2 linked regions of the Homo sapiens genome follow. The protein of the gene in region 1 interacts with the protein of each later gene in a biochemical or structural test. Each region holds a gene or a part of one and is shown on either strand. Other genes may lie near its edges. The genes, in order: SIK1 and HDAC5.

Region 1 (16,269 bases):
AGCGCTACAAACCATCCACCAGAACCCCAGGAAATTTCTAACTTCTCTAGGACAAAGGCATTCATCATTTAAAAATGCAAAGAAAAAGAAAAATTTCTCAAATAAAAAAAAAATAGGAGATTCCTACTCACAAAGACAGCTTTGAAAAATCAGAGGTGAATTCCTCACTGACTTGCCTATCCTGATACACCTTTGCTCTCACAAAAGGTCTAAATATATTAGAATTCCCCTCTGTGGTCATATTTAATTCAAGACACCTCACATACAATTTGAGAATGCTTAGGCCGGGGCATGGTGGCTCACGCCCTGTAATCCCAGCACTTCGGGAGGCCAAGGCAGGAGAATCGCTTGAGTTCGAGACCAGCCTGGTCAACACGGCAAGACCCCATCTCTACAAAAAATACAAAAACTAGCTAGGTGAGGTGGTGGGCACCTGTAATCCCAGCTACTCAGGAGGCTGAGGCAAGAGGATCATTCGAACCCGCAAGGCGGAGGTTGCAGTGAGCCGAGATCGTACCACTGCACTCCAACTTGGGCGACAGAGCGAGACTCCATCTCAAAAAAGGAGAGACAGTATTCTGAAGGCTACAGAGGAGGAGATTGCTGGAAGTCTGCTGGGCTTTATAGAAGCCTAGTAGGCAACAGATGATTCCAGCCAACGGTCAGAGCCACCTGGGTAATAGAGAATGCACACCCCATTCCCACTCGCTTGATTGACAGGATGAATGACGCTGTGGGAACCCAGCTTTATTGACAGGATGAATGAGGCTGTGAGAATCCAGCCTCATTCACTCAGCATGTAGCCATTCACTCAGCATGTAGCCACACAACAGCCATGCCAACATAGCCCTTTGAAGTTCATTCACTAATCAATAACTTTATTTTACTTAAAAAGAGATTTAAAAATATAACTTATGTCTGTGAGTATTGAAAAATTTTGGAGAGGATGAGGCAATATATTCTTATGAAAAAAGATTTTTTTGGGTTCAAAATATAGTTATTCCTTTAAAAAGATGCTTTGTGCTGGAGGTGGTGGCTCATGCTTGTAATCCCAGTACTTTGGGATCACCCAGGCTGATCACTTGAGGTTAGGAGTTCGAGACCAGCCTGGTCAACATGGTGAAACCCCATCTCTACTAAAAATACAAAAATTAGCCAGGTGTGGTGGCGCGTGCCTGTAGTCCCAGCTACTTGGGAGGCTGAGGTAGGAGAATCGCTTGAACCCAGGAGGTGGAGGTTGCAGTGAGTCACGATCCATAGCGCCACTGCACTCCAGCCTGGGCGACAGTGAGACTCCATCTCAAAAAAAAAAAAAAAAAAAAAAGATGCTTCAAAGATTGCTGCTTTGAGTTATAAATCTAAAAAGAAAAGTGTTCTATAAATTCTAGCAGTTTGGCAAGAATTTTAACTGCCCCGCCCCTGTGGGTGGTACAATAACTCTAAGACCACTGCTGACCCGTCCCCAACTGAAGAAAGGGAGGAGGAGGAAAAGAATTAAAAGTCAAAGTGTTTGAACTTTTTGAAAACTTGAAAAAAAGAGGGAAGTGTCTCAGCAGGGTTCTGGGGCCCCGGCCAGCGGAATGAAAATTAGACACTAGTGGCCGGGCGCGGTGGTTCATGCCTGTAATCCCAGCACTTTGGGAGGCCGAGGCGGGCGGATCACAAGGTCAGGAGATCCAGACTATCCTGGCTAACACGGTGAAACCCTGTCTCTACTAAAAATACAAAAAATTAGCTGGGTGTTGTGGCGGGCGCCTGTAGTCCCAGCTACTTGGGAGGCTGAGGCAGAAGAATTGCTTGAACCCAGGAGGCGGCAGTTGCAGTGAGCCGAAATCGCGCCACTGCACTCCAGCCTGGGTGACGGACAGAGACTCCGTCTCAAAAAAGAAAAAAAAAAAAAAGACAGGAAGAAAGAAAGAAAAGAAAGAAAATTAGACATTAGCATCAAAACCAGAGGAGTAAAAGTCATTGCTACACCACTGAATTCTATCATCTCCCAACAGTTAAGAATCACATACAGCAGCAGTAAGAAAATGCACCTCCAGAAAAGACCTCAGCAGCAAACACATGGGCAATTTGTTTCTTTAACGGAGCTAATTCCACACAATGGGCAAAGGAGAAGAACAGGAAGAAAAGGAAGGTACTACCATTAGGGTTCAGCCCTTGAGCAAAGTCAAAAACAAAACCAGCTCAGCCCACTCCTGAGGAAATGGGCTGGGCACGCTGCACAGGCAGTACACCAGTGGCCATGGAGCACACAACTTAAAAATGACAACAGAAACAAAACACAAACCAGGCGCACACGGCATGAATTCTGTGCTTAAAGACACTGAGCAAACTGTCGTAAGCTCCACCAATACTGCTACTTTTATTTTCAATCTAGTGCAGAGGCTTTTGGGGGATAATTTCGAATCATAATTCTCTCTCCTACCACACTGTACACCGAGCTGTCCTAATTGCACAAACACACACAACAACATCCCAGAGTCATCTCACATTCCATTTCATAAGAATCATTACGAGGAACTTCAACCCAACACAAATGGATGAAATAGCACCTGCAAAGAACTTCTTCTGCAAGAAGACTTGATTTCACCTTGCAAAAGTGGTCATTTGTCATTAGGGAGGTGTAAATGATTGCTTTGCTGTTCTAATTAAATTAGTACTTATTTCCTGATGATATAATTTATTAATTTCAACATGAGAACAAAAATTAAGTCACAAAATAAACCAACAGAGAGACAGGGCAAGCCATGTTCCTAGCATGGATTAAATGACAAGCTCCTTGCTCTTACTATGGAAAAGTATTTTCATCTCTCCGTTTTTCATGGAAGAGTTTAAATAGGGAAAACAAATGCTCACTACTGTCCTTGCAAAAATAAACTAATGAAAACCAGTAAGAGCAGCTGGCTTTAAAGTTTAATAATTATCTGCAAAGGCAGAAGTTTCCAGTTTCACTCAAATTTGTCCTTTTATACTAAATGCGTGACCTGTGGCAATACCTACAGATAAGTTTGTCTGTTTTCATAGTAAAGCAAATTTACAACAGACTTCTACACATTTAAAACTGGATCAGGTTAGGATACTAAATAAAATTCTAATGAAGCAAATCTCAATTATGATCCAAAAGCAATAAAATAATTGTAAATATATCTGCACAGCCTATAAAAATCAATCTATTTACCTTATACAACCAAATGCCCAACTTCCACACACTCCCCAAAAGGGAAGCCACCTTCAGAAATTGCAGACTTATGCTGTTGGAAATAAAATATAACACATTTGCCAGGATTAGCAGAGAAAGGCAAGCTGACCCCTTACCTGGTAAAGCTTTATGATGTGTGGATGGTTCAGAAGCTTCATCAGCTGAACCTCACGATAGATTTTCTCCAAATTGCTTGAATCTAATCGTGTTTTATCAATTATTTTTATTGCAACCTACAAATTTAAAAAGAAAAAGGATATTCTGTGGGTTTTTTTAAAAAAAGAAAAGAAACCCTCAACCTAATTTACACATTTCATTTTTTGCAAGTTAATTTCTCAACACTCTGTCTCCAGAAGGTCACAAGAAGTTGGGAAAACATAACCAAAGTAACCACTAATGTTATTTAAAATAATCAGAGTTAAGTAAGTGACTTAAGTATTTGCAGGCTCACTTTACAGGGTTTAGCTCTGAGTCCATGAACCACTGCAATCTTAGGTTGGTCCTTTTTTTTGCTATTATCCTCTCTGCTTTCTCCCAATATATGTCCAAATTATGCAGCAACATAATATAAAGCATTATTTTTCTTTACCGAACTAAAAACGGTTACTATTTACCCACCACGACAATCAAGCCTGGAGCAGTGAATCTGCATGGGGTCCACCCGCCAAAGGTCGGGTCGCCCCGGGTCCAGTGGGGAGGCCCCGCCGGCTGGGTCCCACCGCCCCCACGCACCTGCGTTTTGGTGACTCGATGCCGCGCCAGCTTCACCACCGCGAAGTTGCCTTTGCCCAGGGTCCGCTCGATGTCGTAAAAACCCACCCGGAGGGGCTTCTGCTGGCCCTGACCCTGGCCCGCGGGGTCCGCGCTGAACTCCGACATGATAACCATGGCTCCGCGCGCACCTGCGGGGCCGCACAGAGCTCAGAGCCCACCAGCGCCCCCGCCGCCCGCGGTCGGCTCCATCCGTGCCCGCGGAGCCCCCAGTCCCCACGGGACGCAGGGACCTGCTCCCACGCCTGTCGCCCCCACTCTATCCACGGGCCCCTCCAGCCCCGTGGGAGGTGTGGACCCGCCCCCGCCGCCCGCTCCACCCGGACCCCCGACCCTCTTGAGCCCCGCGGGGCGCACGGACCCGCTCTCATAGAGGCCCCTGCCGCCCGAGTCCGGTTCCGTCCCGATCCCGGGACCCCCTGAGCCGGGATTCCACACTCGCCTCCCGCCGCCCGCTGTCGGTTCCGTCCCCACCCTCGACCCCTTTAGCACCTCTGGGCGCGGACCCGCTCCCACACCTGGCCCTGCCACCCGAGGTCGGCTCGATCCGGATCCCAGGACCGTCCCCTGCCCCGCTCCCACACCCTGCCCCCGCCGCCCGCGATCCGTCCGGTCCCCACCCCCGACATCCCAGGCACCTCGGGGATCGCGGACCCGCCCCCCACACCCGGTATCTCCGCCCGCGGTCGGCTCCAACCTGACCCCCGGCTCCCCAGCCCCTGAGCCCCGCGGACTCACTCCTACCCCGGCCCCCCAACAAAGGGGAGCCCGAGGGCGGCCAGGCCGCCAACCCCGCCCGCGAACCCCGCGCGCGCAAGGCCAGGGACCCTGCGCGGTGGCTGCAACCCCGAGCCCCGGCCCGGCGCCCGCGCGGAGCCCCCACGGCGGCCACCTCCGCCCGCCCGGAGCCCGCCGCTGCCGCCGCTGCCGCCGCTGCCGCCGCCTCACCTCCGCCGCCACCGGAGCGCCCAGGCCAGGAAGCCGCCCGCTCGGCCGCTGGCGCTGCTCGGGTGCCTACTGCTCCGGCTGCCGCCGCCGCTGCTGCTGCCTCCGGGGCCGCGCCGCATGTCAGCCCGGAGCCGCCGCGCTCCGCCGCACGCGGCGCCCGGCCCCGCCCCGGCCCGCCCCGGCCCGCCCCCCGTAGTCCCCGCCCCCTGCCCCGCCCCCGCCGCCCGGGCGGGGGCCGCCCATTGACGTCGCTTTGACGCCAGAGCGACGCGCGGCCGAGCGCCGGGCGGAGGGAGAGCGGGAGATCGGGCGGTTGCCAAGAGACTGGCGGCTCTGACGCGCGCGGGATGAGGCCGTTGCCCTGGCGACCGCGGGCCGGTGACGTCAGGGGCGCCCGCCGCCCGAGGCCCGCCCGCCTGCGCTCCGCCGGGCGCCCCCTCCCGGGCGCTGGGGGCACTGCGGGCGGCCCCACCGCCGAGGGCGCGCCCGCCCCTCCACGCTCGGGCACTCGGGCCGGGTCCCGCGGGCGCCTTGTGCTCGCTCCCTCCAGGAGGGGACGGCTCTCGGGCAGGGGTCGCCGGCCCCTCCACGCGGCCTGCGTTCGTCCAGACTCAGAGCCTCGGGACGTGCGGGGGCCCGGGGGCCTCGCGGGCTCGCGCGTGGGGCTGGCGGCGCGGATGCCCTGGGGCGCTGCAGACCCCGAGAGGCCGCTTGCCCGCGGGGACGTCAGCCGCTTTTGCTGTTAAAATCTGAAATGTTCAGCAAGTTAGAAACTTGAAACCTAAGGAAGCGTGACCGGCCGCTCTGGAAGCCCCCGCCGCGCGGCCGGTCCCGGCCCCGGCCCTCAGCGGCGCTGGCGTCTGCGCGTCCCGGGGCTGCCCCCGCAGCATGTGGGGCTGGGACCCTCTTCCCGCGCGGGCCCCGGGCGGACGCTGCGGGCGGTGACGGAGCCAGGCCGGCCGCCTGGGTAGGGGACGGGGGCGCGGGACCACTTGCTTGCCCGTGGCCGATGCCTCATCCGAACGGAAAACGTTTTCTTCAGGGGAGACAGAGGCTGTGGGCGAAGGTATTTTTTAAGCCTGAGGACCCATTTGGGAGTTAGATTCTGGATCGAGCCTAGGGTCAGTTTTCCTTGTGTTAAATAACACTACTTCACAGAAGGGGGAACGAGAATTCAGGGGAGTTGGCACAAAACTTGGAACCCTTCTCGGGAGGCTTTCCTGCCTGGACGGACGCCTGGGAGGAGGGCCCGGAGAAACGAGGATGAGCTTCTCCTCATTCGCCCGAGGGTCTGACCACAGATTTCCCAATCGCCACACACACACACACACACACACACACACACACACACACACGGGTTGTTTGGGAGTCAGTTGGTTTTCAAAGGCTTTCAAGGAAATGAAGAGTCCCAAAGTTTTCCTTAATCGTTCAGAGTGTTTTTCTTTGTCCCAGGTTTATATACCAAGAATACGGGGGAATATTTTTAGTTCCTTTCAGCTGAACAGTGTACAACTGCCTTTTTTCCTTTTGGAGGTCCCAACACCCTGTTAATCCGCTCCTAGGAGAACTAAACAAAAACAAGGCTGGACGTCGTGTCTCCCGCCTGTAATCCCAGTGCTTTGGGAGGCTGAGGCAGGAGGATCAGTTGAGCTCAGGAGTTTGAGACCGGCTTGGTTAACATAGCAAGACCTCACCTCTATAAAATACTTTTAAAATAGCCAGGTGTGGTGGCACACGCCTGTGGGGCCGGCTACTTGGGAGCCTGAGGTGGGAGGATGGCGTGAGCCTGGGAGGTTGAGGCTGCAGTGAGCTGTCATTGCACCACTGCACTCCAGCCTGAGCAAGAGAACAAGGCCCTGTCTCAAAAAAGAACAAAGATAAAAGGCGGGGTGGGGGAGAAACCAGGCCCCTGATCACACTCACCATTCAGTCCCTCAGCCTGTGACTTGAAATACTGCCCCCCGCATCCAGGAAGCAGGCTTCCCCACCCCTCCCACCCTAGCCAGAGTCTTCCAAAAGGTCTTAGGTATTTGCAAACACCTGGCTGGCTGTTTGGAAACATTGCATCAGCACCAAATAAAAACTGCAGCCAAAACTGCCTCCGCAGAACAGGTCCCCAAACTCAGGTGCACTTGACCTTTCACCCTGACCCAGCCCTGAGCTTCCAAAACCCAGAACAGCCCTGTGCCAACCATGGCCATCCTGTTTTCCCTTCCCTGGGCCCGTGGGCAAGGAGCTCGCTCTGCAGAGAAAGGCAGGAAGCACAGAGGAAAAGGCCAAGCTTGGAACGGCTGTCCCGTCTCCCCACTGGGGGAACCCCTGGCACCCTCATAACTAAGTCTGTGCTTCAACCTGGTCTCTGTTACCCAATGTCTTTTGTTGTTGTTTGTGTCCTTGACCCCCCGAGGCTGTATTTCCTCTCAGAAGCTTTGATTTCTTTTCTGTTTTCTGGTCTTCCGTGCCTTTAACACGAGGAAAAATAAAACACATGGTGTGAGTGTAAGGATGGTACAAGCAAATGATTGGAGAAGCTCCTCACTGAACATAATGGAAGGAATGCTCCCAAAGTCTGCAGGAACGGTACTTTATTATTATGGTTTGCATATTATTACAGATTTGTGGAAAACGGCAAGTCAGTTTTCCTTTCCACATGGACTTTCTTCAGCTTGTCTTATGATTGCCGTGTTTCTGGAGTTCATCTTGTTTTTTAGGCCTTAAGACTGGAAACCCCAACAGGAAATGGGTCCATTTATTATTCATAGTTGTAACGCTGGCCACTGGCATGTCACAAAACTCTCAAAATCAATTGATAAACACAGAGAATGGAGCGTGGGGCAGCATTTTTGCAAAGGGATGGGTGCCCAGCTGGCCCCAGTGCCGCCCTCTGTGAGGAAGGAATCTCCCAGTGCAGCCAGGAGTCAGACGAGTTCCTCTTCCCGACCCTACCCTCCCATCTTCGACGCCTAAGGCCCTTCCCTGTCTTCCTGGCTTTGCTTCAGGTGGTTTTGTACTTTTTAAATTTTGTTTTGGTTTGTTTAGGCTTCAGCCTAGCGGCTTTAGGTGCCAGAAAATCAGATTAACCACTGCAGCGGCATCCTTCTCAGGGACCCGGGGGCCACGTTGGTCATTTTGCCCCATTGTATCTGGAGAGCTTGACAGACAGACATGTGTGCACTAGGTCAGGAAGCCACGGCCCTGGCCTGGGAAGAGGGCAGGTAGGAGAAAAGCCCCCAGCCCCCTCCACCCTCAGGGAATGGCCCAGTTGTCCACAGGTTAAGTCAAGAATCCCCCGCGAACAGGTCAAACCAGAGACTGCCCAGTCCCAGCGTCCGCCCCCAGGGCATTGCTTCCTTCACCTCCTACACTTGGCTCCCTGTGGTTCCGTGGCTGCCACAGTTGTGTGGATCCTACCGGGCCCAGGGCCCCTCCCCATCTCAGACAGCACCCACTTTCAGGCTAGGCCTTCCACGGGCTGCTTAAATGGACCACGAAGGCCGGCAAAGCAGCAGAAACGTGCCTGTTCACGGGCCAGTCGGCCCTCCCCGCTCCAGCCCTCTAGGGTTTCTGGTTCCGGTTTCTGTCGCTGCCGTTAGTGAGGAATTATTCATGTGGCCAATGCGTTTTCTTGACATTTAAGCAGGGCTGTGGCCGATATCAAGGCTGAGGACCCAAGAGGCCTTTGGGTGTCTGTGTCCCTGAGCCATATGCTGAGGTCGGACGGCGGGGGAGGGGGGTGCAGGAAGGGGCCAGCCCCAGCGAGAGTCAGCCAGGCCCCAAACAGAGCCAGGGGTTCCCCCGGGGGGGAGTGCTCACTTAGGAAGAGCACCATGGACAGCCTGGCAGGAGGTCACCCTGTGCTGAGCAGGCAGCGCTGGAGTAAACCACCTGCCTCTCTGTAGGAAGAAGGAAACCGCATCCGCAAACGGAGCAAAGGTCCCCAGAGGCAGAGCAGAAGCCTCTGGGATGCTGCAGCTTTGTGCAGACACTGGGGACCAGGACTGGAGCAGGTGCTGGCCGTGCTCTTTATCCTGGGCACTCTGCCAGGGCCACACGGAGCGTGGCTCCCGGGAGATGGAGACGTCTGAGTGTCAGCTCAGGTCTCGGTGTTTCCAGGTGACATGCTGGCTGCTAGTGTAGAGCATGGTAAACCATCTTTTTTTTTTTTGGTTACTATTTACTTATGCAAAATAATGTGAGTTTCTGCCATTTGCAACAAGTGTGCCAGCTGCAATGAGTCAGCGGGTGGACACAGGTGAGCATGGCCAGACTGTGCCAGAACATGGTGACAGACAGACATGCTTCGAAGTTCACTGTGGGAAGGGACAGGTCCCCAGAGAGAGGTGAGACGGTGCAACGCGAGGGTGAGTTCGGAGTCATCCTCCAGATGTCCACAAAGGCTCGAGAGGCCCTGCTGTGTGTCAGGCACTGCGTGAAGGTTGTGGGCACAGTAGGAGGGACACAAGACACCTTCTCTCGAGGACCGTTGGTTCCAGTTGCGGAGACAGTAACAGCATAAGATGATGAGTAAGAAAAGAATGCTGGCAGGAAAGTGGCCATGGAGGGAACTGCTTCCGGGCCTCTCCGTGGGATTTGCCAGGCGTGGACTGAGCGAGGACCTTCCCTGAGAACACCAACTGCTCCAGGAGAGAGAAGAGGTGGAGCCCCGGCGGGGGGCATGGGGCAGGAGGCAGCCACCCACACCTTCCCTCTCTGAATGCTGAGCAGAGGCTCTCAGCAGAGGGGAAGAAGAGCAGAGGCCACGATTGGGAAGACAGACCCAGTGGGGGTCCTTGGCGCCGTCCACATCCATCTGCAACCTGCTGCCCAGCGCCTGCCTGCCCGGGGTGTGCACAGAGCAGTGTGGTCTGTCCCGGCTTCACGGCCTGACACGGCCAGGCGAGGATGACAGGGAAAGGGAGGCAGGGACTTGGGGCTGTTGGAGCCAAGCTGAGGAGCAAGGAGCTGCGATGGGAAGCGGGTGGCAGGAAGGAGCGTGAGGCCTGTGGGTGGAAGGTCTCTGGCCTTGGAGATTGAAGCGTTTCACTTGTGCATCTCACAGCCCAGAGAAGCCAAGCCCGGACCATGGGGGAGAGAGGAGGACCCCCGTCTCAGGGCGGGCTGAGGAGACGCTCTCTCCACGGCTTCCGGATGGGTCTCCCTCCATCTCAGCTGCATCTATGGGAAAACGATGAAATGCTCCCTCCACTGCCGGGCCTTCTCTTATAAAGCAGGTTTCTTCGAAGTATAAAAATTAATAGAAAAGGTTCCATAGAAAATCAAGAAAGTAAGTATGTAAAGATGAAAACAAAAAGCACCGGAAATGCTCTTCATAGCTGACGTTTTCTTATTCACTTTTTATTAAAACAGGATGAGGCGTCCTGCCTTTTCCAGCCTTATCTAGGAAGTGTCTTGCCAGGTCACCAAATGGCAAGCAGAACCGTAAGCTGAAGTTGTCTGCCTAGAATTCCACTGTGGCAATGTTCAGCATCCCGACTGGACAGCTCCGTGCGGCGGCATCGGGGGCGCGGCGGCATCGGGGGCGCGGCAGCATCGGGGGCCCTTTTCATGCCATTCAAGGCCCCGTGGAAACAGACACCACAGCTCAGCATGAGACTGTGGCCCCACCTGACCTGGCTCATCCATCCCCAGCCTCTCGTGGTCCCCGGCCCTATGCCGACATTTGGCACTCGATGAGCCATTTCTCCACATTTCAGGAGCCTTGTTTTAAGACAGCCTGGCTGTCTGAGAGCCACCGGAGTCGAGACTGGATGCCCGGCCTGGTGCCCGTGGGCCAGCACCGCCTGAGGAGGAGGGGTCTCTGGAGGCCACAGGCAGAGCCACTGAGAGGGATCTTTAAGCAGAGGGCCCCACACACCTCCTGGGACCCACGGGTGTGGCTGCCATGCAGGGTCTGGGAGCTACAGAGAGTCGGGAACCAAGGGCGCGGTGGCTCACACCTGTAATCCCAGCACTTTGGGAGGCCAAGGATCACGAGGTCAGGAGATCGAGACCATCCTGGCTCATACGGTGAAACCCCATCTCCACTAAAAATACAAAAAATTAGCCGGGCGTGGTGGCGGGCGCCTGTGGTCCTAGCTACTCGGGAGGCTGAGGCAGGAGAATGGAGTGAACCCGGGAGGCAGAGGTTGCAGTGAACCCAGATTGCCCACTGCACTCCAGCCTGGGCAACAGAGCGAGACTCCGTCTCAAAAAAAAAAAAAAAGAAAGAAAAAAAGTAAAAACAAGAGAGTAGGGAGCCAAGTCCCTGGGTTGCCAAGTCAATCCGTGGAAGCCCCTGACTTCGAGCAGGACACAGGGCCCTAAGGACAGCCCCAGCCCCTGCAGTGTGGCCTGCAATGGGTGTCATTCATTTTGACCTGGCTGTTGTGGTTTTGGGTGGTATTGTTATTTGTTTGAAAAGAAAACACATGGGCTGCGTATGGCATGAGCAAGTACAGACGTCATTGGGATCGGCTAATGAAAATGACAGAGTACTCTAAAGTGACACCTTACAGGGACGTGGTGATGTGGCACCAGGCCCAGTGGCACCAGCACACCACCGTCTCGCTGGCATTTCCACCGTGGTCCCTGTTAAACCAGAAAGAACGAAAGTGTGATGGGGAAAAATAAGTATGTGTTTCTTGTAAAACACAGCTCATTTCAAAACTACTGAGAACAAGGGGACAGTTTGAAATTGGGCAGAGCCCCTTGGGACCAGCTGGACCAGGAAGAAGGTCCAATCAGCTCTTCCTCAGGGCCAGGAATCTCTCGGTCACTCCGAGGCCTGGAAGAAAGTTTCCAGAACCTTTTTTTGCACAAATAAACTGCAGATCTGAAATCAGCAAGAAGGTTCAGGACCTGGGCCCCCAGGATTGGAACCACGGGAGTCTCAGATCCTCAAACTAGCTGGGTTTGCTTCAGTTTTCTCAGGTGGGACGGGCCACCCTGGGTTTCCCAGGGTGATGTCCCAACAGTGGAGGTGAGATGTCACAGAATGGAGGATGTGATATGATCTGTAACATGGAATCCAGCAGAAGCTCCAGCACTTAAAAGACAGGAAGCAGTGGAGGGCCTGGGTGTCCCAGCCTTCATCATTCCCTCACCTGGAGCAGTTGGTGTCCTCAGGGAAGGTTCTCATTCAGTCCATGCCTGGCAGATCCCATGGAGGTGCCCGGGTGATTCTGGCACAAGGGCTGGAAGATTCCTTCTTTGATCCCTGCTGGTGGCCGGAGCTGGCTCACAGGCCTGGGGCTGCTCAGCTGCAGGACAGTGGGAGGAGGTGGGCTCTGGGTTCCTCAACCCGGCTCACAGCCCTGCTCCGACTGTCCCTGCTGGGCACCCCTGGCGGTGATATCATCAGCCTGGGCCTCCGTTTCTTTTTTCTTTTTTTTCTTTTTCCTGAGACGGAGTCTTGCTCTGTCTCCCAGGCTGGAGTGCAGTGGCACAATCTTGGCTCGCTGCAACCTCCACCTCCCAGGTTCAAGTGATTCTCCTGTCTCAGCTTCCCGAGTAGCTGGGACTACAGGCATGCACCACCACGCCCAGCTAATTTTTGTATTTTTAGTAGAGACGGAGTTTCACCATGTTGGCCAGGCTGGTCTTGAACTCCTAACTTCAGGTGATCCGCCCACCTTGGCCTCCCAAAGTGCTGGGATGACAGGCGTGAGCCACTGCGCCTGCCCTCCATTTCTTTATGAACAGTGTGTGGTCCCAGCATCCTGAAGTTGGTGTGAGGTGCAGGTGGGACGGCTTTGGGGCAGGCCCCAGTGCAGACGGCCCTGCTGCTGCCCCTGCCCGTGCCGCTGCCCCTGCCCCTGCTGCTGCCCCTGCCCCTGCCCCTGCCCCTGCCGCTGCCTCTGCCCCTGCCCCTGCTGCTGCCCCTGCCCCTGCTGCTGCCTCTGCCCCTGCGTTCCTGAGCAGGCCACCATGCTACTCTTTGGGAGTCCTTTTTCTTCTTTTTAAATGAGGCTTGATTGGCTTAGGGAGAAACAGGAGACACCGCATACCATGCAGTTAAAAATGAAACTCGGATTAAATGAATATTGAATTCAGTACTGTACTGGCTTCCTAGAGCTGCTGAAATGCAAACTGGGGGCTTAAAACCACGGAGACGTATTCCCCCACAGTTCTGGGAAGTAGAAGCTCGAATGCCTGTTGGCAGGGCTGAGCTCCTCTGCAGGCTGTGGGGAAGGACCTGTCCCATGCCTCTCCTGGCTCCTGGTGGCCGCTGGTAAGCCTTGGTGTCCTGTGGCTTGTAGACACATCTCTCCAAGTGCTGCCTCTGCCTCCATCTCCGCGTCTTCCTGCCGCCTCCTTATAACGACGGCAGCCATTGGAATGGGGGCCCACCAAAATCCAGTCTGACTTTGTCTTCATTTAACTGATGATATCTTTAAAGATCCTGTTTCCAAATAAGGTCACATTCTGAGCATCCAGGGGATGCGAGTTTTGGGGAGACTCGATTCCACCAACACCAGCATCGAAGAGGGCAGGGCACAGAGATGAAGCTAAGGTCCAGGGCGCACACACTGATGGGCACCCTTGAAATAACGGCAAGGTTGGTACGGGCACATCTCGATCGGAGGGGCCGAGGGGTGAGGGAGGGTGGGGAGGAGACTCCCAGAATGGGAGACACCAGCTAAGCAGTGGGGCTGGGAGAGGGCTCCAGGATAACAAGCAGTTGGGCGGGGGACGACACAGGAGAGCACACAGCGGGGGAGCAGGGCAGGGGACGACAAGGGAGAGAACACGGCCAGCCCAGGATCCTCGCCCTGCCTTCGCCTCGAGCCCCAGACCAGACTCACCCTGACGATGCCTGCTCCCCATCTACTGCCTCCAGGGACCCCCTATGGGTTCCCCCACTCATAAAGAATGCCGAGGAGTTAGGAATAGGACAAGCACGTGTCCCTCAAGGCTACTGTTGGGATGCCCAGGACTTGTCTGAGCCCTTCTCTAGACCGGCTGCTCATCCACCCGCTGCCTCTAAAACCAGGTAAGAGAAGGGGAGAGAGAGGGTCAGGAGATGCCCTGGCCCAGGAGCAGAAGCTCCCCTGGAGGCCTCGGTCTGTGGGCCTCCTGCAGGCTGCACAGGGGGGGCCACAGCTGTCCTCACCCAGGGGCCATGCCCTCCCAAAAGGAGGCCACCAGAGGCCCCTTGTCCCACATTTTTGGAGTGTGGACAGCCAAACTGGGTCATTCAGACCCAACCTGGTCACTGTGGAGGGAATGGGCTGTGCCCCACTCCCCACCCAATACCAGGCCGAGGCCAGCAGGTCTGAGGGTCCCTGTGGAGCTCTGTCCTGCCCCAGCCCCGGCCAGCTGTCCTACTGGCTCCTCTAGTCCTCTTCTTAGGTAAGGCTGAGAAAGTGGGTCAAAGGCAACAACCTCAGAGCCTCTGGCCGCTCCTACCTGAAGGGCCGGGGCTCTGTGTGGGTGAAGACCGGCAGCTTCCTGGAGTAACCAGAGGGCTGAGCCTCCTCCTTGACTTGTTCGGAGTGTTTCTTCACTGACCGGTTTACCTGGGTGTGCATACGGAGGGTGAGCCACTGGAACAGTGAAAGCGTCCACCCTTCACTGAGTCAGTCCCTCTCCCGGAAGGGGCCAGGGACAGGGCAGGATGGCTGGGCATTGCAGGAGATTCTTCCCCTCTGGCCACATTCTCCCCATGCTGGGGAGGTGGGGGTCAGAAGCCCACCAAACAGACGGGGAAGTAGGGACAGGTGAGCCAGACCGGATAGTGGGGCACCACCCTGTCCCTGGGAACCCCCATGACTGCCTCGTCTCCATCCCCTCTAAAATGCCAGGTCCACAAAACCACGGTGAGATGCCACCGCACACCCATTGGGATGGCTACCATCAAAACACAACAGAAAATTACAAGTGTCTGCAAGGAAGTGGAGAAGCCGGAGCCCTTGTGCACTGCTGACGGGAATGTGAATGGTGCAGTCGCTGTAGGAAATGGTCGGTGAGTCCTCAGATGGCATGGTGATCCCACAGGCAGTTCACACGAGCAGGAGGTGGGACACTCAAACATCCATCCACAGATGAATGGAGACACAGAATGTTCCACAAAATGGAATATTACTCAGCCTTAAAAAGGAAGGAAGTTCTGAGACATGCTACAACACAAAGGAACCAGGAGGACATCATGCTGCGTGAACGAAGCTGGTCCCAAGAGGACAAATGCCGTATGGTTCCACGTGCACAAGGTCCCTGGAGTACTCAAATCCACAGAGGCAGAAAGTAGAGTGGGAGGTGCTGGGGCTGGGGGAGTGAGTGTTTAATGGGTTCAGAGTTTCAGTTTGGGAAGAGGGAAAAGTTTGGAGGTGGATGGTGGTGATGGTTACACAGCAGTGTCAATGAACTTAACGTCACCAAACTGTGTGCTTTCAGATGGTTAAAATAGTAAATTTTATGTTATGTGTATTTTACTGCAATAAAAAAATGTTAAGCCAGGTCCCATAGTTCAGCAAGAACCAAAAGGGCCACAGGACCTCCCAGTAGCTCCCTGCCCCGTCCTTAGAAACCTGAGCCCCCTCTGGCACGGAGGGAGGCCTGGCACAAGAGGCTGGCAGTGGGGTGGGCCTTGGCAGCCCACCTGCAGCCTGGCCTGGGCTCCACATCTGCGAGGACTACACCGGGTGCTCCCAGGAGCTCCGAGTTCTCAAGAGACACCTCAGCTTTCTCATCCCCAAAACCTCCTTCTCTCCATTCGGAGCGTCTCCCCTGAACCCGACATGCTTCCCCAGTGGGAACTATGCTCTCCCCTGCCCCACCCCGGTGGACGGGTCCTGCTGCTGCCCTGACACCCTGGCACTTCAGGCAGCCACTGGAAGGGCCCAGAACCAGGAGCACAGGTGCTCCTGAGCCATGCCCAGCCACCCCCGGTGGGGGCAAGCTCCGTGGCTGCGCCACGCCCTGGAGGGCTTTAGAAAGCAGCTGTGTTTGCTTTGCCCCTAGATGTCACTTAGAAACAGTGTGTCCCATAATTGTTTTCTGGGGATATTTTTGGCTTTTTTTTTTTTTTTGAGATGGAGTTTCGCCCTTGTTGCCCAGGCTGGAATGCAGTGGCACGATCTTGGCTCACTGCAACCTCTACCTCCCGAGTTCAAGCGATTCTCCTGCCTCGGCCTCCCAAAGTGCTGGGATTACAGGCGCGCCACCATGCCTGGCAAATTTTTGTATTTTTAGTAGAGACGGGGTTTCCCCATTGTGGCCAGGCTGGTCTCAAACTCCTGACCTCAGGTGATCCACTCGTCTCGGCCTCCTAAAGTGCTGGGAAACAGGCATGAGCAACTGCTCCCGGCCATGTCCCATAATTGAATCTGTGCTACCAAATTTATATT
Region 2 (15,607 bases), on another chromosome or scaffold:
GCTCAGAGCCAAATCACAGGCACCTGCAGAGGCACACAGTTCCCACTTTCCAATTTGAAGCTTGGGATGCACACCCACATATCCAGAGGCAAGGACTCCCCATTCACACGCACACACACAGACACCCACACTTGAGTGCCAAGCCACTGCCAGGAGGGGCTGAGCAGGCATGGGTCCAGCAGGCCCCTCCCTGGAGGAAGCATCTTGTGGTGCCGGCCTGGTGGGGAGGCTGTGCCAGGAAGGCTTGATGCTGCCAACAGGTTCCTGGGAGTGAGGGAAGGAGCGGCCCAGCTCTGGGGGACCCCACCCCTAGCCAAGAGCCAAAAAAGTTCCTGCTGAGAAGGTGGCAGGATTAGGGGGTCCCGAAGCCCATCTGAGCCAGAGTAACACCTCTTCATCCTCATGAGATGGGAATCAACCCAGACCTGGGGAGAGGAGCGCCATCGGGAGACAGCTAGGGGCTAAGGCAGCCAAGCCCCTCAATATCCAAGCTGCCAGCCTCTGCCTAACTCCATCATGACTGCACCAAGCCTCCCCAAGTGTCTGATTCTCAAGAGACTCCTGGCTGGGGACTTGCGGAAGTCACTGTACTCGATCCTGTAGCCCCAAGAACCAAGCCAGAGGAGCTGGAGTAACCTTTATTCTTGTGGACACCCAGCTACACCTTCTTCCCTTGCCCAAACTTGGGGAGCGGGCAGCATGGAGGCGGGTCACTGACCCACTTCCTCCCCTCTGACCACAGTGCCAACTAGGCCAGGATCCTCCAGTAACCCCCAGCCCCCAGCAGTGGATGCCGACCCTGCCAGAGACTGAAGGGACTGGAAGAGATGCAGCAGAGTACAGCGGAGGGGCACCGGGGAGCAGCAGGCTCTGGGCAGGGAGGGCAGGGGCCTCTCTGAGCAGGGATCCCCCAGCCCTGTGTATTCTCAACAAAACTCTCAAGACAGATCTATGCAGGACCCTATCTGTGCAAGGCTCAGGGCCAGATGCTCAGCCCAGGGACAAGGATGCCAGATGACAGAGGGCAGGCAGGGACATCAAGGCACTTACCTGTCACAGGGATGCTGTGCAGAGAAGTCCGCGGCAGGATTTCCAAGGATGGTTCCCGACCTGACATCCCATCTGCTGAGAAACAGGATTCTGTCTCATAGATGGTCTGCAGCATCTCCACGAGCCCCTGAGCCTTGGGCACCAGCAGCATGCCAGGGAGGGGGCCGCCAGAGGCGGGGAGCAGACCGAAGGGAAGGTGGTCGGGCAGCCCGCACAGCACAGGTTCCCTCAGGCCACTGCCGACGGGACCCACACTGTAGGGAAGTGCCTCATCCGGCCTGGGCACTCCTGGCGGCAGGAGGGGCAGGGAGGCCCTAGAGCTGCAGGCCCAGCTCTGCTCTAGAGGGGCATCCGACCACCAGCCTCTCCCTGGTTCCTGGGAGCTGGGGTATGGCTGAGCACTTGGGACAGGAAGGGGAGCTCAGCGGGCAGGCGGGCTCTGTGTTCCCTCCCAACCCTGGGTGACAGCTCTGGGCCCGGCTCCCTGCTCCTCCTTCCCGAATGAGCCGCCGCCGGCAGCTGGCAGGAGACTGAAATAGCAGTTGGGGGAGGGCCCTGTCTATAAATAGGTGGAGCATGCTCAGGGAGCTGCGGGCGGGCTGCCAGGAGGCCCCATGGGGGGGGAGGCGGTTCTACCCCAGGAGGAAGCGCCAGGCGAGGGGGATGGGAACAGGGGAGGGCCTGCACTCAGGGCCAAGGCCACAGCGCTGGGTGGCCAGAGGCTGGGCTGGGGAAGGGCGCCGGCCAGGGTACCCATGCATCTGGGAGCGGCTCTGGCTGCTACTCTTGGCAAGCAAGCCAGGGGATGGAGACCAAGAAGCCAGACTCAAGCCTCCGTCTTTCTTCTTGCCTTCCAGAACAGGTAAAGGAATTGGAAGGGTCTAGGAGAGGCTGGCACACAGGCACCTTCCCTGGAGTTCTAATAGCCCCATGGAGGTTTGCTTAACTTCTGCCCTCCCACAGAGTTGAGAGGTGCCTCCCCACCCCTTCAACCAGCAGAGAGACCCCTAAACACCTGCTAAATGGCAGCTCCCTCCCGCTCATTCTGGAGTGTCGCCTCCAGAGGCTGCTCAGCCTCAGCTTCTTTCTAGGGTGTAGGGATACTCCTCCTGGGCAGACAGGTGTCCCCTGGTCCCCTTTCCTCACCCCAATCCAGGAAAAGGGACCAGGGAACATCTGCTAATTCTCAGAGCACAGGTAGCTCCTCCATGGCAATGTGCCAGGTGCAGTGCTACGAACATCATATACATCATCTCATTAATTCTGCGTGGTGACCTTGGGAGAGGCACAGATGGGAAAACTGAGGCACAGGGAGATGAAGTCACTCACCCTAGGTCATAAAGCTGCTTACATGGCAGGGCTGGGATGTCTGAGGCTCAAGTCTGAGCTCTAACCACCACACTCCACTGCCTCCCATTTCCCAGGGTTTCTATTAACAGGTACAATGACCCCTGTGCTCAAGTAGGAAGAGACTTGAGGTTGGAACCTCGCTAAGGAGAGTCAAGAGTTTTTCAGCATCCAGCCATTACCCACCAGCCAGCCTCAGGCCTGGCAGCACAGCCCCTGCTCCCTGGGTCCTGGGGCTGGTGCACCATGAGGACCAGTGGCACTCCCCCGCCCTCCCCACCGCTGGCCTGCCCCTGCTCCTCAGGTTGTGCCTCCCACTGGTACAAAGATCCCACTTGGCCCCCTGACCTCACTAGAGCCTTTTAATAGCCTGGTTATTCCTGTGTCTATATCCCCCTCCCCCTTCCTGATGTCACAGTTGCTATTTTGGAGCCCCCTCCTTGACCCCCACTCCAGGCATGGAGCCAGGGACACCTGTCCTCTCTCTGGACTGGATGACCTCACCCTCTTGTTGGGAGCCCAGGAGAAGCTGGCCAACCAAGGACACAGTGGCTGTGGCTCCTGGAGCCCAATTTCCCAGCCAGCTTCTGCCAGTCAGGGATGGCAAAGGGGTCTCCTGCCCTCAGGCTGGGAGTGGGAGGATTAGGGGGACCACACCTATAGGCAGAGGCAGGCTTTCCCAGGCCCTTGACTAGCAAGATGTATATGTTGCCAGGGGGTACCCAGTGGTGGACCAGCAAAGAAACAGGGGTCTGGAGCTGCAGCTTCTAAACCAGGGCAGATTCTAGAAAAAGGGCAGTGGAACAGTACTCCCTCAGAGGCCTAGTGCTGGTGGACATTCAGGGTATGGCTGGGGATCTTGTTCACCACCCCTTGCCCCAACCTCATCCTGGCCAACCAGGCCCTCTCAAGAGGAAGGGAAGGGAAGGTCTCCATCAGTGGGGTGATGGGCAGCAGATTCAAGGGAGCCCAGAAAGCCAAGAGCAGCAACCCCTCCCAGCCCAGGACTCCTCCCACCCACGCTAGGAGTAACCAGAAGGGCTGGCTAGCCCTGTCCCAGCTCTCTCTGCCTGCCCCAGGCATAGGAGAGTGTGGCAGGAGAGCCTTATTCTAAAGAAGAGGAAGGCGTCAGTTACCAGGACTCAAAAGCAGGGCCCCCAGAACCTGGAGCACCCAGACATTGAAGGAAACAGGACTTCCTGCTTAGGGAAGATAGTAGCACCCAGGACAGGGACACCCAGAGGTGGCTGGAGCCGGGAGCTGGGGAGCCAGCTCCCAGCACCATTACAGCCTCCAACAAGTAGGAAGCAAAGTATCAGACACAGTCAGAAAATCCTCAGTGCAATTCCCAGAACCCTCCAAGGCAATAAGAGAGGAGATCTGGGATGGGGACAAATGTCTTTTTTTCTTCTGAGATTCAGGTGATACAAGGTCCTCCTAATGTCTAACTTCAATCCTTCATGCTTTAGCCCCCCTCCTTGCAATTCACTTCTCTTTTCCGTTCTCTCCCAACCAGCACACCCATGTATCATCCCACAAACCTTATGGAGCACCCACCAAGCATGGGGTACATGAGCTTCACCCAGAGCCAGGACTGTCTTCCCCAGACTCACTCTGCCCCTCCCTCAAAGGCTGCACTCTGACCTCCTAGCCCTCTGAATCTGAAGGAGGAAAAGAGCCTAACCCTGGCTCCAGGTTCCATTTCCTGAGCCCAAAGGCTGTGGGGATGGGGGGACCTTGACCAAAGGGAAGAAAGCAAGGTCTGCTTAGTGTGCAGTGAAAAAGCCAATGGCTGGCCCAGGAGCACCCTGGATGAAGTGTGAGATGCCAGCTTCCCTGAGACCCAGATATCAGACCTGCCCACCCTCCTGTTCTTTCCTGCCCTTCGAGCCCAGTCATGCTGGAGCCCATCAGCATGGCCTGGGAGCTGCCATGTGCCAGCCAGGCCCCATGCTAGGTGTTGGCTGAACCCTCTCATTTGAAGCCAAGTCCAGGAAAAATGTGAACACCTACTTTGGCATCTTCTACTTCCCCTCAGGGTTGACCCTGCCTTCTCTGGCCATTCCATTCTAAGCCTTCAATCTCTTTGGAATGATAGAGCAGGGAAGAGGAGGGGAGAAGCAGGTCCCGCTCTGCAGTGAGCACAGAGGTGTGCCAGGGGGCATCTCAGTAGAGAAGGGAGGCCAGGAGTCTACTTCTCAGACCCCAGCCCCATGCCAGGATTGACCCACTTTCTCACTGCCTGCCTTCCCTGGGGGCTCTGAAGGAGGCAGAGCCCAAGGCTGGAAGGCAGGACACCGAGGTTCCTGGCTCCACCCCACACCCATGCCCCAGTTTCTCTGGTCACCCAGAGAGCAGGCGTGGGGGGGGGGGGCTGCTGCCCTCCATCCTGGAAAAGGGAAAGAGAGAAAGTGTGAAGGTTCTGGGAGGCGCTGGGCAGGCAGGTGTTGTCATGAAGCTTGTCTCCCTCCCACACTGGGGAGAAGGATCCTGGCCGCCTCCTCCATGGCCCCGCTGCCACCCAGACTGGCTTGCACAGTGGGCCTCACTCTTGCCTGCTCTTCTGGGCAATGGCACAAAGAGGGTACAACCAGAGCTGGCCTGGGTCCCAGGCCCCTGGGCAGCTCCTCCAACCTGGTTGGGCCGAGTCTGAGCTGAGGGAAAGTTCTGTCAGCCTTTCAGCCCCACTGAGGAGAACATGCAGAAGCAAACAGTTCCAGAAAAATAAAGACAGCCTTAATCCTCAAACCCCCTTTTGCCGGAAGAAAAGGCAGAGATCAGGGAATGGTCTCAGGGAAGCAGGCAACCCCATCAATAGCCTCCGCCTGTGATTCCAAGACTGCAAAAGAGGTAAATAAAGTCAAAGGCTGGTAGGCAGCCCGAGCCAGAGGGAAGTCATCAGCTCCCACCTTCCTGGGCAGTGGGCCCCAGAAGGAAATCACTCACAGTCTCCACCTGCTGCCCCTCACCAAAACAGTCTCTCTTGCTAACATGTTCACTGTGAGGACCAGGGATGGCCCATCTCATATTTTCTTCTGTCTTCCACAGGCTGAGCCTGTTGGTGATACTCAGTGAGGACTTGCCAAACTGAAAAGCTCCTACGCTGAGAGGACTTGAGGGGAACCAGAAGCTCTGCCCCTTACAAAGCCTACTGTCCTTTACTCTGGGGAAAGAGGAGCAAGTGTTCAGGGAAGTGAGGAAAAGGTGGGAGGCGCTCAGGGGCTGCAGCAGACCCTGGGGACTAACCATTTCCTTCCTTCCCACCTCTTATCTCCTGCCCCATGGCCCATACCTTTCCTTCTTGGGGCTCTCTACAGGGAAGTGGACACCCGCGTGCTCTGGCTTCAATCGGTGGTCTCACTTTACTTCCGCCGAGTTCCAAGGCATGTGGTTTCCAGGCTTCTGCCAGGCGCTGGGCACCCCAGCCCTAGCCCAGATGCCAGCCCAAGCTCTGGGAATAGCAGACGCTAGGCCCCTCAGAAAGGAAGAGCTGGGGGGAGGCTGACTATCTCCCTGGCCCAGGGCAGCTGGAACCCCACAACTGGGAAAGCCAGTCCAGAACCCCAGGAACACTCTGCAGGAAGGGCCTCAAGCAAACATCCCCAAGCAGTGGCCCCAGTTCCAAAGCCTCTCAACAATCCTAAAATGAGGTTCCCAATCCCTGGCCCCCTCCTTTTTTCCTTCTTTCCCCAACACAGAGAAGACAGCATCTCCCCCTGCTGGGGGGAGCTGGAAAGCCAGGCAGGACGCGGGGCCCATTCCACAGGCCCACTCAGGACGCCCCTCCTGGCCAGGGCTCAGCAGTGGCTCTCAAGCTGCCAGCCTCCTGCGTTGGTGGACACGTCCAGCTCCTCCAACACTCTTGTCAGCTCCCACAGAGGTAGCTGCAAGGGAAACTTGGACCGCCAGCATCTGGAAAGGTAACCCAATAACTTCATCTATCCTGGGTTGATTATCACATTTCCCTGCAAGGGAAAGAAACCCCAAAGCTGGGAAAAATCCTTTCCAAGCCACCAACAGATGCCGCTAGGCAGCTTCAATTCCCTTGGCCAAGAGTTAGACCCCAGCCCCATGGGAAGCAGGGACTGCAGATGGCTCCTGGACAGGTCAGCGTCACAACTCAGAGGAAAGAAGTAGCTGGCACTACTGCCCGACATGGCTGAGCTTGCTGGGGTAGTGTCCAGCCAAGATGCACGAGGGACAGATGAGGACCCAGGCCTCTCCTTTCCCTTCGCCATCCAGCCTCAGAGGGGCAAGCAAGAGGGCAGAGCTGGGCAGCCCACCTGTCCCAGCCCCTAGGGGCTGAATGAGGGCAAGGGCAGAGGGAGGAATATCTGAAGGAGAACAGCAAACCCTACAGAAAGGATGATGGGGAAGAAAATGTGGGGTGGTCTGGATTCCTCCCTGATGCTGCTTCTGTACAATCCTGCAAATGGGTATTCATCCTAGGCCCCAATTGCCCTATCTCTAAAAGGAGAAATATCCACCTACCCCTACATAAAAAAGATGAGGAGTACGATGGGCCGTGGAGAGCTAAAGTTGAGCAAGATGGACCTTTAACACTGTGTGGAAGGAGACACCCGAGGAGGAGGAGACGACAGCCACTACTCTGACCACACTGCCCCAGGACCCTCCTGGGAAACTGCTGAGGGTCCAGCTCAGGCCACTAGAACACAGCCTCACAGGCATACATCCAGACCCAGCTGCACATCAAGCTGCCTAGAGTCCCCCAAATAGACTATTTCTGGCAGCACTGGACAGGGTCCTAGGAACAAAGAGGAACAGGAAATCTCAGAGTAAAAGACCCCAGATTAGCAATCTACCATATGAAGGGCCCAAGAGGAAGAGAGGCAGTCTACCTGGACTCAGAGGAGAGCCGAGACTCCTCTACACACGTCACCCCACTCCCACCCAATGCCACGCACCTGCACACGGAGGTTAAGGCCCAGTGCCCTTGTAAACCTCCACTAAGAAAAAAGTATGGAACACAAACATTCCACTAAGTAAAGAAGCCACCATCACGAAAAGGAAGCTGAGCATTCTGCTATAGTAAAGAAATTCCTCCAACATCATCCCAGACTGCCCAGAGAGATTAAGGGATACACACTGCCCCCTCAGGCCCACCTGTCTTGGCTAGCAGGGGAAGGCGAAGCTGGAGCTGAACACCCCTAAGTTGAGAGGGCAAGCATGGGGGGCAGAGTAGGACCCATTGCCTTCCCAGGACCAGACCGGACCATCGATCCCTCGATTCCCAGGTCTACCTCATGGGCCCTTTCTTGCAACACTTCTCCACTCCTTACCCCCTCATTCCCTTATAGCTCAGACAGTAAAGGTCAGCTGGCCTGGAAGGGAAACCCACACAGCCCATTGCATCCGAAGCTACCCCAGGGTGCTCTTCTCCAACCTCCCAGCTCTTACCCGACTCGTTGGGAGAGTTCATGCCGGCTCTGGGCCTGCAGGAAGCTGGCGTTGGGGGCTGGGACGGGAGGGGGTGGAGCTGCGGTGATGTCAAGAGAGACAGACGATAACAGACAGACGGACGGGACGGGAGCCCGGGGCCGCCGTGCCTCTAATGCCCATCCGAGGCCATCCTTCGGGGCGAGGCAGTCAGGCACTCAGAACGGCATCCCTGGGGAGAGATGGAGCAGGGTTAGAGGCCCCTAACTCAGGAATCTGAGAGTCGAAGGAGACCTTGGAGCTCATCAGTTTGTACCTGGGGATGAGGGATGAGAGGGAGGGATACCTGCCCACAGCCACAGGAGAAATCTGCAGAACTGGATAGACCCTGGTTTCTTATCTTACTAACTGATGAGGCTCCCAGAGCCCAAGGGATAGGAAATGGCTATGGTGGCCAAACCCAACAGACCCCTTTTCAGGTGAGTGTCTACTGCCAGCTGGGGAGACCCTATAGACTCCCAACAGTGCCTGCCATGGGACTAGGTGTGCACCAAAGGAGAAAGTGCAGGGGGGCTTCTGATCTGTATCCATAGCAGTGGGGAGATGCAGGGCTGATCTAGAGTCCCTGGCAGAAGTGAAGGGAGAAACTGGTATCCCAGCCTCCATAGCCTAAGCTGGGACTTCTAGGGGTCTTCTCCCGACTTTCTGATCCTTGTGCCACCCAGCTCTGGAAATATGGATGTGCTTCTGTTTTGGTCTCCCACAGTTCAACAACAGACCAGGACAAGAGCTTCTCTTTCCAGGAATTGAGAAAGTCAGAGACCTCTCCATCCCAAATCTAGTACCCTTGGCCTGGCAGGTGCAGGGCCCAAGCCCAGCACTTTGTGTATATTGTACAGGTTGTGCTCTGTGTAAGGAGGTCTGGCCCAGGGAGATACGAAATCCAGCCTGTGCCCTGCCTGCCAAGCCATGGCCTGACATGCTGAGTCCACCCAAAACAAGGGACGATTTTTTCCCAGTTTGTACGAAAGCAACAAAAGGCCCAGCAGTAGCCCTGCTGAGGCCAGTATAGTAAAGGAGGAGGTATTACAGGACCACGGCTTTGCCAACCCATGCCCACTCCTCCAGTTCTCCCCCACAGTTAGTCCTCAAGCCTCAGACACTATGCATACAGACACCTGGCCCATCCCTAAACGGCCCACGATCCACCCCAGACATGATCTCATTCATTTGCTTCCAAATGAAGGCAGGCCCTCCAATACCCAATGAAAGCAAGGTAGCAGGAAGCCATCAGAGGAGGCTGTGAGCTGCTGCGAGTTTAAGCCCTAACTCTGCTCCCCAAGCCTCGAACCAGCAATCAGCTCTGCCCCCCTAGACAGCCCCACCTCCTGGCAGGATTAATTCTCAGTAAGCCTTACATTCTCATCAGATTCCCAAGGGTGGGGTCCATTTGGAGCCCAGAAGCCCAGAAGCCAGCTATGGCAGAAACACAAGAACATGAACACACATGCGCATGCACGCACACATGCACACACGAGACCCTGAGGTCCCAGGCTTGCTGCTGGGACCACAGGGCTTGGACTCTATGGCTGGAGAAAGGTGCACTCAGATTGGGGGGCAGAGTTGAAGGGGCTAAATTGCTCCTGACGGGCACAGGTATGGGATTAAGACAAAAAAGGCTGCGCAGGCAGGGCTGAGGCCAAGCTCAGGAATGTGGCAGGTAGGGCTGCTGGTGCTCTGGCAGGGCCCACGTGGGCAGGCAGTTCAGCCTGTGCCCACACCAAGGCTGGCACCCAGTCCTGCTCACACCCTTTCCCGTGGGCTGGGGAACACAGGTTCAGAAATGCCCACGATTCCCAGCAGCCTGAGTAGCCCAGTCCATCTCCACAGTGAGAGGCACCTCCACAGCAAGGTGCTCAGAAGGGGCACAGCCCCAGTGGCACAGAAACCAGGTTAAGGTTAGCCCCTAGCCCCCATCATCCTAACCCACCTACTCTCTCTGTGGGTCTTAAAGATGCTGATCCTCACCCCTGAGGCAGAAGAGGAAGGGAGCAGCTCCTTGAACTCATGGTGGGCTCGGGACTCATCTACGTCTACTCCTCCCCGTCCTATAAAATTCAGCAGGATCCCTGGGCCCCTGGGCCCTGTCCACCTGTAAAGAGTGTCTGCCAACACCCCCATCAAGTCTCCCAAGTGAACCAGAGCCACAGGCTGAGCCTCCCTGAGAAACAAAGCAGTGTTCATGGTCTGATCGGGACAAGCACAGATTCCTGTCTGGGGTGGGACATGAAGGGGAGAAGGGGAGCCTGATGTTTAAAACCTGAGCTGTTTGTTCCCACATCTGCCAGAGAAATCTGTTGGGTCTCAGTGGGAAGTCAGGGACACCAGGAGCTGTGTCCCAGATGACCTAACACTTGGATGCCAAACCAGGGAGTGGCCCAACTTCCAGGACATCATAAGCAGACAGACCCCTGCCCACCCCACTACCTCACACCAACTCTTTCTTCCAGACAGACCCCTACCCCACTCCGGGATCCAAAACCACCTCCCACATCCAGCCAAGACAGCCGGACAAGGATGAAGGAAACAGGCTACATCTCACCCTACAAGCTCAGGGCTGAGCCTATGGAAGTAGGGTGGAAACCCCAAACTCTGGCAAAGGGTGGGTGGAGGAGGGCAGACAAGTGAGGGGCACATGGTACAAAGCAATGCTCCAAAGGCCATAGGTTCACAATGTTACCCTGTAGAGATCTTGTTCCTCAAACAACTCCCTCAAAATTCCTGGGGAGTCAGGTGTCCCTTGAAGACCCTCTCTGGATCCTGGAGTCCAGTACCACCATGCAACCCCCTCCCAACACACCTGCTCTGGCCCCAGGCCAGGGTACCCCCTAGGTCATAGGTGACAGGGTCAAGCAGTGTGAATCAAGTCTTGGGAGTCTGAGATTGTTTCACTCTACCCCGACAGTTTCATCAAAAATTACAAACCGGCCAGGCGCGGCGGCTCACGCCTGTAATCCCAGGACTTTGCGAGGCCAAGGCAGGCGGATCACCTGAGGTCAGGAGTTCCAGACCAGCCTGATCAACATGGAGAAACCCTTTCTCTACTAAAAAAATACAAAATTGGCCAGGTGTGGTGGCGCATGCCTGTAATCACAGCTACTCGGGAGGCTGAGGCAGGAGAATCACTCGAACCCTGGAGACAGAGGTGCGGTGAGCCAAGATTGTGTCATCGCACTCCCGCCTGGGCAATAAGAGTGAATCTCCATCTCAAAAAAAAAAAAAAAGTTACAAGCCAAGACATCCCACCCAAAGGTCAAAGGCACTAGGAATTTATCTTGACCCCTCCTGACCATGGCCACAGCCTACCACTTTCCTCAGCCTCTGAGAGCTTCTGTTGCCTAGTGCCTCCCCCAAGCTAGGCCAACAGAAGCCCAGAAGGATCAGAGCCATGAAGGGTGGCTGACTTGGATGTCCAGGCCCCAAACCAGGGAAAGGGGGAGGGTGACAGGGAAGGAAAAAAGGCACCAGGCTGACAAATTCATTTTTGCAATCGGCCCATTTCTGTTTGTCTGCTCAGACGCAGCTCCAGGCATCTGCACAAGCCAGATGGAGGAGGCTGCTATTTCTAGAAAAAAAAAAAAAAAAAAAAAGAGAGGGGGGTGGTGAGAGGGGAGGAAGGGAGGAGGCGGAGGCAGAGGGCAGAAGACGGGGTCTGTTTGCCCTAAAACCTCAGGCAGAATGATACCCTCTTCCCAGCACTACCAGGCAGGGTCCCCATTCAAGAAAGGGCTGCGGCTGGGCCTGGGGTGAGGTGGGATAGGGAAGAAGAAAGGCAGAGAAAGTTTAATTAGCTAAAGTCGGCTACAATAGGCCCCCTCACGGGCTACATCAGGTTTTCATTCATGAGCAAGCTACAGTGCTCCAAAAATGCCAAGAACCACCCCCCCTTGCTGTCTCCCCCTTCCCCCCCCTACTGCCACCAACAGGAGTGCGTCCTCTAGCAGGCTGGCTGAGCCTAATGCTGTGTTCCAGACATCCCTCCTCAAAGGGATGTGAGTAGGAAGAATTAATTATTAAAGAGCAGCTGGTACTTCAGCACCGACTGCACTACCCCCAGCTCCTATAGCTGATGCCCCCTCCCCCACTATGCGGGAACACAAATGACCCCCGCCCAACATTCCCAGGCCCCATTTCTAAACACACAATTAAGATGCCACCCCTACGGAAGGCAAAGCAAACCTTTGTCTCTGCAGCTACTTGGGGTGGGTGGGGCATGTGAAACTGCTGCCCCCCTCCAAATTACATGATCCAGCCAAAGTAGGAGGATATATTGGAAAAGAAGGGGAGGCTGGCACAGAACTAACATTTCCTCCATCCTTGCCCCCAAGTAACCCACACTTGAGATCTGTCTCTCTGGTCTCTGGCATGCCCACATTCCCAGGACAGAGTGGAGATACTGGGGGCCCATTTCTCTAACTCAGAGAGACCCCTACTGCTTTGTCAAGAAAGCCCAGATCCAAGTTCAAGTGAAGAGAGGGCAAAGAGAGGAGTCAAGAAAAGAGGAAGGAGACAAACCAAGATCTCCCCAAGCTTTGTGTTTAGGGAGGGAGAGGAAGGAGGGAAGACTGGAATGAAGAAGCAGGCAGCCCCCAACATGGCTCATCCACCATCCAGCCCAGCCAGCCTAGCCCAGCCCAGCCCAGCCCAGCATCTCAACAGCCAGCATAGGCTCAGGGTGCCTAGGACTGGGGAGACTGAAGACCATGCCTGCCTGCCTACATCCTCTGAAACTAAGAGGAAGCCAAAGGCAGGACCCAGACCCAGACTGCAATCCTGCAAGGCAATCTGGCTAGGGGTCCCTCTGACCAAGACTCCTGGATCTCACCCTCCCCCCCACCTCCTTTTGTTCCCATAATCTGGCTCCATCCTCCCCTCCCAGTTGGACACTGAAACCAATCACCACCACCTCCCCAAGCTCCAAATCTAATCCCAGATCCCAAAAGCATGGTGGTCACTGACTGAGTGATGGGTCCCTTTTGCACCCTCCTAAAAGCAACTGCAGCTGTTACCTTTCCTCTTTAGGGACACACCTCATTTCAGAAGGGGTATCAGCCAGGGGTATCAAGTGGTCATCTCCTCTCCCAAAGGAAGCACCCAACCTCCCCACTTCAACAGCCCCCACCAAGCTCCCAGATTAATTACTTACACCCAGCCAGTTCTCATCTTCCCCAGGGCCCCAGGGAAGGGTGGGGTGGAGAAGCTGACTCCCCCCAAGTTAATAAGGCACTGGTAGTGCCCCCGCTTCCATGAGATACAGATCCAGGATGAAAAATGGGGGGCATCCACCCAAGACAAGAAGGGGTTGGGGGGGAGCTCCATTTCATCTCCTAGCTCTCGCATCCTGGCTCCAAGGTGTCAGACAGGAGAAGAGGGTGGCAACAAACGCAGTAACGCCTCACAGGAGACGGGGTGAGAATAATGGGAGAGAGAAGTAAGGTGGACTCCGCAGTCCCCCTCCTCATGCACGGAAGTCAAGGACATAAAATCAAGGATGCGTTCGTAGCTATGGGGAGAAGCGCTCTGGGTGGACAGCACCCCTCACCTCAGAGTACCAAGAAAGGGGTGTCCAGCGAAGAGGGGTCTGCACAGAATCCGGGTGCAGGGCTCAAATGGCTCTGCAACGCAACATGCGCCGCCAGGGAAGGGGCAAATCAGACAACCCCGGCCGGTCTCCGAGCCATTTGGGGGCGCAGGGCGCGAGAAGGCGGGCCCCTCCCTTACCTGTAGGGAAGGCGCCCCTGTCTGGGAGGGGCAGGGAGGGGCGCGCGCAGCAACCCCGATGTCCCGCTCACGGGCTGCCGATGCTCCCGGGGGGCGCCGGCTGGCTCCCAGGGCCGGGAGGAAGGAAGGGGGGCGCGGAGCGCGGCGCGCGCGCTGGGAGCCCGCGGACAGAGACAGCAGGAGGAGGGGGCGCCGCCTCGCGTCCCGGGGTCCGGGGAAGATGGGATCTGGGCCGGGGCGGCGCGCTCACCCGCTGCGGCTCGAGCTCCGGCTTCGCGGGCGGCGGCGGCAGCAGCGGCGGCGGCAGCGGCGGCAGCACCTCCTCGACGGCTCCTCCATCTTTGCGGCGGCTCCTCCGGCTCCGCTCGCCGCCGCCACCAACAACAACATTCGGAGACGTCACTCCCGTCACGTGACCCGACCCGGAGCTAAAAATAGACCCAGACCCCCCCCCCAGCCCCCCCCGCCTTCCCCTTGCCCGCAGCCACCACCAACCCCTCCCCTGCCTCTCGGCCCTCCCCGCCGGGCGGGGCCAGCGACGCCATCGTGACAGCTCCTTAAAGGGCCAGTGCCCAGCACAGGGTTCGGCCGAGACGGGGTGGAAGGGAAGGGATCGGAACCCAGCGAGCAGGAGTGGAAGGATCGCTGCAGGGGCCGAGTATGGATGCTGGGGCTCAACCTTTGGATTGTAAAAGTTTCCTCCTTGCGCTCCCCGGACTTTCTTTTCAAAACGTGGATGGTGCAATCGTCGCTTGCCTAAGCTGCTCCCCTAACACGCCCTCCCGCGGTCGGGGAGGGGACCTGGGGATAGATTCCCAGGGGCTGGGAGGGCCACCGCAGCCTCTGCAGCGGGGCCTGGCTGCGGGTGGATGGTTCGGACAAGTCTCGAACTCGCCAGCTCTGACCGCACACACTGCATCCGTGCCAGGGAAAGAAAAGCCTGGGAAAGGCCAGGGTATGGCTGTAACACTCCAAGGCCTTCAAAAGGGCAGACCAGCAGACCAGGAGCCGGAAAGACTTCCCTGACTTTGGTGCCATCCACGCTACATCTCCTCTTGGTACACAGTATGAACATGTTTAATTAGACCTAGACAATTTGTCAATGACCCAGCAATTCCACTAACAAAAATGTATTCCAAATAAATAAACGTTGTTATGTTAAAAAATGAACATGAGATTGTTTGTAATGATGTGAAAAGTTGAAAACAACCTAAATATCCATCGATAGGGAATTGGCAAGCAAAGCAGGAGACATTCATTCAGTAAAATATTATCCAGACATTAAAAGTTTTATAGGGGACCGGGCATGGTGGCTCACGCCTGTAATCCCCGCACTTTGGGAGGCGGAGGCAGGCGGATAACCTGAGGTCAAGAGTTTGAGACCAGCCTGGCCATTATGGTAAAACCCCGTCTCTACTAAAAATACAAAAAAATTAGCCGGGCGTGGTGGCAGGCGCCTGTAATCCCACCTACTCAGGAGGCTGAGGCAGTAGAATCCCTTGAACCTGAGAGGCGGAGGTTGCAGTGAGCCAAGATCGTGCCATTGCACTCCAGCCTGGGCAACAAGAGTGAAACTCTGCCTCAAAAAAAAAAGTTTTAAAGGGGCCAGGTGCATTGGCTCTTGCCTGTCATCAATCCTAGCACTTTGGAGGCCGAGGCGGGAGGATTGCTTGAGCCCAGTTCAAGACCAGCCTGGGTAACATGGCGAGACACTGTCTGTATTTTAAAAAAGAGGCCGGGCGTGGGCCGGGCATGGTGGCTCACGCCCGTAATCCCAGCACTTTGGGAGGTCGAGGCTGGTGGATCACGAGGTCAGGATGTCGAGACCACCCTGGCTAACACAGTGAAACCCGTCTCTACTAAAAATACAAAAAATTAGCCGGGCGTGGTGGTGGGCGCCTGTAGTCCCAGCTACTTGGGAGGCTGAGGCAGGAGAATGGAGTGAACCCGGGAGGCGGAGGTTGCAGTGAGCAGAGATCGCGCCACTGCACTCCAGCTTGGGGAACAAAGCGAGACTCCGTCTCAAAAAAAC

What was found.
Region 2: of the proteins of SIK1 (region 1) and HDAC5, one has a biochemical effect on the other in vitro, tested with the Homo sapiens proteins (3 studies listed by BioGRID).

What each region holds. Positions count from the first base shown.
Region 1 is NC_000021.9:43,422,086-43,438,354, forward strand, and holds the start of SIK1 (serine/threonine-protein kinase SIK1), read right to left. Parts: upstream 5,047-16,269; 5' UTR 4,925-5,046; intron 4,108-4,924; 5' UTR 4,094-4,107; coding exon 3,938-4,093; intron 3,439-3,937; coding exon 3,322-3,438; intron 1-3,321. UniProt on the Homo sapiens protein: Serine/threonine-protein kinase involved in various processes such as cell cycle regulation, gluconeogenesis and lipogenesis regulation, muscle growth and differentiation and tumor suppression. Phosphorylates HDAC4, HDAC5, PPME1, SREBF1, CRTC1/TORC1.
Region 2 is NC_000017.11:44,109,679-44,125,285, forward strand, and holds the start of HDAC5 (histone deacetylase 5), read right to left. Parts: upstream 13,964-15,607; 5' UTR 13,826-13,963; exon of another isoform or gene 13,576-13,825; intron 10,918-13,575; exon of another isoform or gene 10,760-10,917; intron 10,426-10,759; exon of another isoform or gene 10,309-10,425; intron 8,027-10,308; 5' UTR 7,838-8,026; coding exon 7,816-7,837; intron 6,318-7,815; exon of another isoform or gene 6,234-6,317; intron 1,588-6,233; exon of another isoform or gene 1,304-1,587; intron 1,126-1,303; coding exon of another isoform or gene 1,123-1,125; coding exon 1,051-1,122; intron 1-1,050. UniProt on the Homo sapiens protein: Responsible for the deacetylation of lysine residues on the N-terminal part of the core histones (H2A, H2B, H3 and H4).